2 linked regions of the Homo sapiens genome follow. The protein of the gene in region 1 purifies or fractionates together with the protein of each later gene. This does not show direct contact. Each region holds a gene or a part of one and is shown in the gene's direction. Other genes may lie near its edges. The genes, in order: TTC21A and IFT140.

Region 1 (3,811 bases):
ATAGTTGATGGCTGACCTGATGTTTAGAAAACAGAAACATGAAGCGGCCATCAATCTTTACCACCAAGTCTTGGAGAAAGCGCCAGGTAATTCTGCCCATGGAGACTGCCTGTACCAGTTCCCACTGAGCAAGGGCCGCTCTCCCAGAGAAGGGTGGGACCTCTCCCTCCTTCCTGACTGGGCAGAGGAAGCCCCTTCCTCCCTGATTGTTCCAGAGAAGCAGGAAACTGATAAAGACCCAGTGGAACGTGCCGGCCCTTCCCGAGTCCAAGGGGCCAGTTCCTGGTCTCAAGGACTTGGCACTGGACCCAGGACAGCATGTCTGTCCCCAAATCACAGCCAATGGGGCTTGACACAGTCCCCTTTTGAGGTCACAGCCACTTGTAGGGACTAGAAATTCTCCCCCGTTGTATAGCTTCATTCCCATTCACTGCAGCGTAAAACCACCCCTTATTGCTGGGGAAAGGGGCCAGACCTGAGGCTCAGGTTGGAGCCCTGGCAGGCCCATGGCAGTGTGCCCATAGGCCCAGGAGGTCACCACGGTTAGGAGTATGGGTGCTGGGGCCAGGCTGCCTGGGTCTGAGTCCTGGTCTACCACTTACTGGTTGTGCAACTTTCAGCAAATTATTTCTCCATGTCTCAGTGTCCTCATCTGTAAAACAGACACAATAAGAGTACCTACCTAGGCCGGGCATGGTGGCTCACACCTGTAATCCTAGCACTTTGGGAACCCGAGGCGGGCAGATCACAAGGTCAGGGGATCGAAACCATCCTGGCTACACGGTGAAACCCTGTCTCTACTAAAAATACAAAAAAATTGGCCGGGCGTGGTGGCGGGTGCCTGTAGTCCCAGCTACTCGGGGGTGGGCTGAGGCAGGAAAATGGCATGAACCCAGGAGGCAGAGCTTGCAGTGAGCCGAGATCACGCCACTGCACTCCAGCCTGGGTGACAGGGCGAGACTCCGTCTCAAAAAAAAAAAAAAAGATTAGGTACCTACCTAATCTTGCAGTTAATATATAGGTAAAGCACTTAATACCAGGTACAATATAAGTGCTATATAAGTGTTAGCTGCTATTCTTTACTATTTTTAAGCATTAGTATTATTCTTTACTCAACCCTGGAGACCAGTGGAGACTCTGGAGCTGTTGGAATGTCCCTGCTCAGCCCAGATGGGCAGTATCTCTTGGCTTCTCCTAGGGCCCCAGCACCCTCATCTGATAACAGCTACTGGGCATTTCAGCCTGGAGATTTCTGTCTCTTATTTTAGACAATTTTTTGGTATTGCATAAATTAATCGATCTGCTAAGAAGAAGTGGAAAACTTGAAGACATTCCTGCCTTCTTTGAATTGGCCAAGAAGGTGTCTAGCCGGGTGCCTTTGGAACCAGGGTTCAATTACTGCAGAGGTATCTACTGCTGGTGAGTTGGGTGTGGTGTGTTGAGGGGCAGCTGTGTGCAGGAAGCCCTACTGGCAGATAGGCTAGGCCCTTGCTCTGCACAAAAGGAGCAGAAATTCTGCCTCCAGGACACCCGGACCCAGCAAGTGAGGGCCCATGGGGGCAGGGGTGGAACCCTGTGGAAGTCAGGGAGAGCCTGCAGCCTCTGGATGGAGGCCAGGTGAGGGCCACTTGGGCAGGCCACCAGCCTGCATCCAACACACAGGTCCGACGCCCGCATCTCCTCCAGGGGAGCTGGGAAACCAGAGATCCAGCCTCTGCTTTGTGCAGACTCACAAAGTGGTCCTTGTATATCCCTGCCCTGTCTGGGCCTCAGTTTCCCTCACTGATTCTTGGTGTTTTCTCCACCACAGGCACATAGGGCAGCCCAACGAAGCCTTAAAGTTCCTGAACAAGGCACGCAAGGACAGCACTTGGGGCCAGAGCGCCATCTACCACATGGTGCAGATCTGTCTGAATCCAGACAACGAGGTTGTGGGCGGAGAGGCTTTTGAGAACCAGGGAGCTGAGAGCAAGTAAGGGCCCATGGAGGCAGGGGCGGAACCCTGGGGAAGTTACAGAAAGCCTGCAACCTCTGGGTTGAAGCCAGGTGAGGGCCACACGGGCAGGCCACCGGCCTGTGTCTGATACCCAGGTCTAACACCTGCAGCTACATGGAGAAGAAGGAGTTGGAGCAGCAGGGTGTGAGCACCGCCGAGAAACTGCTGCGTGAGTTTTACCCACATTCAGACTCCAGCCAGACCCAGCTGCGGCTGCTGCAGGGCCTCTGCCGGCTGGCCACCAGGGAGAAGGCTAACATGGAGGCTGCGCTGGGCAGCTTCATCCAGATAGCGCAGGCTGAGGTGTGGCTGGTGGGGACTGGCGGGCATGGGCAGGTGGCAGGGCCGAGAAGACCAGGCGGCCAACACGTGCTGACGTCCACTTCCTACCTGGTGTGTAGAAGGACAGCGTCCCTGCCCTGCTGGCCTTGGCACAAGCCTACGTGTTCCTGAAGCAGATCCCCAAGGCGCGTATGCAGTTGAAGCGCCTGGCCAAGACCCCCTGGGTGCTGAGTGAGGCTGAGGACCTGGAGAAGAGCTGGCTCCTGCTGGCTGACATTTACTGCCAGGGCAGCAAGTTCGACCTCGCCTTAGAACTGCTGCGGCGCTGTGTGCAATACAACAAGGCAAGGAGCCACACACACACTAGGGCTGCGGGATGGCGGAAAGGATTCTAGGCATTCCAGGAAGGTGAAGCAGGCTTTGCAGGTAGAGGCCATATGGAATAAGAACTAGTCGGGAAGAGGCAGGCTGAGAGGGGCACATGGGCGACAGACCAGAATAGGAATGAGGATCAAGGGCGATGGACCAGGTGAGAGGAGGTGCACAGGGGTCGTGTTATGTCCAGAGGAGGGAACACTAAAGGACAGAAAGAGATGGGAAAGCTTCATGGGTTCCAAGCTGGAGGGACTTTTGCAGGTCAGAGCAGGCCAGGAATGGGAGTGGCGGAACAGGAGGGCTACAGGGAAAGGGGTTACGCCAGTGTCTGGGGTAGCTGAGAGGAGGGCACACAGTTGGCTTCTTGCAAAGGTTGGGGTACCCCTGGGGTCCCTTGGCAGTTTGGTTTATGGCAGCTCACTTCTGTCCCTTGCCTGCTTCTGGTTCTGGTCCCAGTCCCACCCTGGCCCAGGGAACCAGTTGGGGCTTCCGCTCTGCAGAGGCTCTAACTGGCTTTCCCTGCAGTCCTGCTACAAGGCCTATGAGTACATGGGCTTCATCATGGAGAAGGAGCAGTCCTACAAGGATGCAGTCACCAACTACAAACTGGCCTGGAAGTACAGTCATCACGCCAACCCTGCCATTGGTAAGGCAACCAGCCAGGGTGCACGTGAATGGACGTGGGAGGGAGGTGGGCAGGAGGGCCCCCACCATGACCCCAGAACTCAAGGCCTGTACCCTGGCTGTTATGAGAACCAGAGGGGTTCTCAGGTCACCAGGGTGCCACCATCTTTGCTCTCCATGTCCCCGGTAGGCTTCAAACTTGCTTTCAACTACCTGAAGGACAAGAAATTTGTGGAGGCCATTGAAATCTGCAACGATGTAAGCCAGCAGCCTTGGTGGGGAGGGCCTGGTGTAGTGGTGGGGAAACCTGCATGATACTGCACACCCATTCTCTCTCTGTTCCAGGTCCTCAGGGAGCACCCCGACTACCCCAAGATCAGGGAGGAAATTTTGGAAAAGGCCCGAAGGTCCCTGAGGCCCTAGCTGGGGTCAAGGGGCCTGGACCAGTAGAAGCCATCAACCTACTGAAGTTGTGTGGAGGGATGGAAAGTGGGTCAGTGGAGAAGGGATTCAGAAAATGACACATTCTTCCCC
Region 2 (3,811 bases), on another chromosome or scaffold:
CCCCTAACAGAAACGTTCCCCAAGCTCCTCAGACTTCGATAATCACCCTCTCGGTGCCCAGTGCACCTCATATTCCATAAAGAAAATGAGGTGCCAGGTGCGGTGGCTCACGCCTGTAATCCCAACACTTTGGGAGGCCGGGGTGGGTGGATCATGAGGTCAGGAGATCAAGACCATCCTGGCTAACACGGTGAAACCCCGTCTCCACTAAAAATACAAGAATTAGCCGGGCGTGGTGGCGGGCACCTGTAGTCCCAGCTACTCAGGAGGCTGAGGCAGGAGAATGGCATGAACCCAGGAGGCAGAGCTTGCTGTGAGCCGAGATCACGCCACTGCACTCCAGCCTGGGCAACAGAGTGAGACTCCATCTCAAAAAATATAAATAAATAAGAAAATGAGGTTTCCTCCTCTACTCACTCTTCAGCCCTCTGCAGGCTCCCTATTGCCACCACAACTTCACCCAAGCAGCGACAGTCATCAGTTGCTTCTAGGTGTCACCCCCTGAGTGTTTTGGGGTCCTTGTCTGTACCACACTCCTGTGAAGTCCTCTGGGAAACATGCCCGAGAGCGCAGGGGTAGGGCGTTCCCTGCCCGGCCTCCATGGCTTTGCCAGCTCTTCCTCCATTTCCAGCTTGTGAGCACCATGGCCTTCTGCAGAGCTTGGTCAGGGCTCCTCTCCATTTCTTCCTTCTCCTGTGATCTGAGCATCCCCAGTGGCTTGCAGACATACATCTCCTGCCTAGAAGTTCCCTCTGAGCTGTAAGCTTAGGGACCCAGCTGCCTTCCTGACATCTCTAGGGTGTTTCAAGGAGACCTCAGACTGTACAAAACTGAACTGAAATTGTCCCCCACCCTTCCCCTGCCTCATATCTCCTGCTCACTGAGATGGGCACCTCCCATCTCAATGAAAGTCACCCCCTTTATCCTGGTTTCTAGAACAAGAACCTGGGCATGACTGTTGACATTTCCCACTCCCCTACCTTGTAATCCATCACTAGATCCTCCCAGTTTCTCCCCCGGAACCTCTGGCGAGTCTGCTGCTGCTTGCCCTTCCAACCGCCCTTCCCTCCTCCAGGTTCCCATCCCCCTCTCCTGGACACCAGTACAGCTTCCTACTGTGGCAGCTGTGCCCTCACAGGCCTCCTCTACTTTACACGGCAACCAGGCCTGGCCTGTCTTGGCATCACAGATGGAATCACTCCCTGCTCCCACCTCCCCGGCCCTGTGCTGCTCTTTGGGTGAACATGGAGTCCCTGATGTGGCCCCTAGCGCCTCCCAGGTCTGGCTCTGTCACCTGTCACATCAGGCTCACCTTCCTTGATGCTGACACAGCCTTGCACAGCCTTCCTCGGCCTTCCAGCCCTGCACATGCTGTGCCACCTGCAAAGAAGACACTCCTTCATCCATTTTTGTAATTAATGCATTAATCCTTCAGGTGAAAGTGGCTAAGTGGCCCCTTAGGAACTGCTCCCCCCTCCACACACACACACACACACACACACACACACACACACACACACGCCCTTGCAGCGCGATGCAGCGCTGGTCAGCGGCTCCCCTGTTGCCAGCAGGCTCCTCCATATACTGGCAGCTTTGCGAAGGCCGTGCCAGACTTAGGGCTCAGTCCAGCCCCAGCACCAACCCCACTTTTGCCCATTTTTTTGGGTAGATTCTCCCTTGCAGGAGCCTATAACATATATGGTAAATGGGATATTTTTTAAAATAAATATTATTAAATTCCAAAGTTATAGCAATTTTAGGTAAAATTTTTAAATTTAGAAGATCTAAAGCATACTATTATAAAACTAGTCAATAGCATATTTCTGTGTTTCCAGTTGGCACAAGGAAAACTTCAGGATTTCAAAATAGTGATCTATTGGACAATGATGAGATCACAGAAGATGGCTCCTAAGCCCAGTGGAACAACTGGGGGCAAACCAAGTTAATCTCTGAAAACGCACTTATATCTTCCCCAAAGCTGCTGCTTTAGAAAATTTTAGAAAACACAGCACATGGCCGGGCACGGTGGCTCACGCCTGTAATCCCTGCACTTTGGGAGGCCGAGGCGGGCAGATCATGAAGTCAGGAGTTTGAGACCAGCCTGGCCAATATGATGAAACACTGTCTCTACTAAAAATACAAAAATTAGCTGGGCTTGGTGGCGCGCCTGTAGTCTCAGCTACTTGGGAGGCTGAGGCAGGAGAATCGCTTGAACCTTGGAGGCGGAGGTTGCGGTGAGCTCAGATCATGCCACTGCAGCACTCCAGCCTGGGCTACAGAGTGAGAATCCATCTCAGAAAAAAAAAAAGAGGAAACGCAGCACATATCTCACAAGCTGTCATTAGTGACATCACCACATCACACAGCCTTTGAAAAGCTCCACTGTAGACGCGTGAAAGAAGGAGAGTATGAATGGCACTAACCTGTCACTATTATTCTGAAAATAATTTTCACCTTTCAGATCCCTGAAAGGGTCCTGGGGTCTCTGGACAACACTTTGAGATCCCTGGGGCCACAAACCTCACCTGCTGGCTCGCTGGTGGTTTTTGTAGATAAGGTTTTAGGGAACCCAGCCACGCACTAAAATGCGTGCCAGCCATCCAGCAGCCATGGGGAGGAGGTGGCACATCATGACAAGGTGGCACTCCATGAGAAGCTGGTCGGGGTTGCCAGCTGAGCACAAGTTACCTTCTGCTTTGGTAGCTCAGCTAGGGGCAAGGTTGGTGCGTTTTTATGAAAAATTAAAGAGTCTACTGAGAACATTGCCCCATTGCCTTAATAGCTTTTGTACCTTGTCGCCAATGTGGAGTCCACAGATCACACAGAAGTTTTGTTTGTTTGTTTGTTTGTTTTTGGAGACAGAGTCTTGCTCTGTCGCCCAGGCTGGAGTGCAGTGGTGCGATCTGGGCTCGCTGCAACCTCTGCCTCCTGGGTTCAAGCAATTCTCCTGCCTTAGCCTCCCGAGTAGCTGGGACTACAGACGCCCGCCATCACACCTGGCTAATTTTTGTATTTTTAGTAGAGACGGAGTTTCACCAAATTGGCCCAGCTGGTCTCGAACTCCTGACTTTGTGATCCACCCACCTCAGCCTCCCAAAGTGCTGTAATTACAGGAGTGAGCCGCCGTGCCCGGCCTAGACAGAAGTTCTTAAAAGTAGCTGTCCCTCTCTGAACTGTGGGAATTTGCCTCTCATCCAATGCAGGGGGAGTGCGTGCCAGATACACACGTCGAGAGGCCGTTCCGGGTTGCTTCCCTGTGCTGGCACCCGACGCGGCTGGTGCTGGCTGTGGGCTGGGAGACTGGAGAAGTGACGGTGTTTAACAAGCAGGACAAGGAGCAGCACACGATGCCCCTGACACACACAGCCGACATCACCGTGCTCCGTTGGAGCCCCAGTGGAAACTGCCTGCTGTCTGGGGACAGGGTGAGTCAACACGCGCAAGACGCTGTTTTCAGACCTTGACCCTTTCTGACCATGCTCGAGAGTATGAAAGATCAAAATATGGGAACCGTGCTGTTGCCAAATTCAGTTGATCTTGTCAGATGCAATTGTAGATTTTGTTTTATATTGGAAGCAAGGCTTGAAAATTTGCCACTCTGTGGCAAAGGTGTGTCTGCACCTTTATAAATGAACTTTGCTGGGAAACTGCATTCGTAAAGATACGTGCCCAGATACTGTCACTTTTCCCTAGGCCTGTTTGTCTAGCTCAGGGCTTCTTAACCAGGGTTGGTTCTGCCCCCCAGGGGACATGGGGCAGTGTCCAGTCACATTTTCTGTTGTCACAATTTTGGGGGAGGATTCAGCTGGAC

The links.
Region 2: the proteins of TTC21A (region 1) and IFT140 purify together in Homo sapiens (co-immunoprecipitation; one study listed by IntAct). This does not show direct contact.

Annotation. Positions count from the first base shown.
Region 1 is NC_000003.12:39,135,089-39,138,899, forward strand, and holds part of TTC21A (tetratricopeptide repeat protein 21A), read left to right. Parts: intron 1-4; coding exon 5-86; intron 87-1,241; coding exon of another isoform or gene 1,242-1,268; coding exon 1,269-1,419; intron 1,420-1,810; coding exon 1,811-1,972; intron 1,973-2,091; coding exon of another isoform or gene 2,092-2,106; coding exon 2,107-2,299; intron 2,300-2,397; coding exon 2,398-2,622; intron 2,623-3,117; exon of another isoform or gene 3,118-3,178; coding exon 3,179-3,299; intron 3,300-3,467; coding exon 3,468-3,535; coding exon of another isoform or gene 3,536-3,592; exon of another isoform or gene 3,593-3,622; coding exon 3,623-3,700; 3' UTR 3,701-3,811. UniProt on the Homo sapiens protein: Intraflagellar transport (IFT)-associated protein required for spermatogenesis. Required for sperm flagellar formation and intraflagellar transport.
Region 2 is NC_000016.10:1,601,984-1,605,794, reverse strand, and holds part of IFT140 (intraflagellar transport protein 140 homolog), read left to right. Parts: intron 1-1,312; exon of another isoform or gene 1,313-1,380; intron 1,381-3,203; coding exon 3,204-3,425; intron 3,426-3,811. UniProt on the Homo sapiens protein: Component of the IFT complex A (IFT-A), a complex required for retrograde ciliary transport and entry into cilia of G protein-coupled receptors (GPCRs).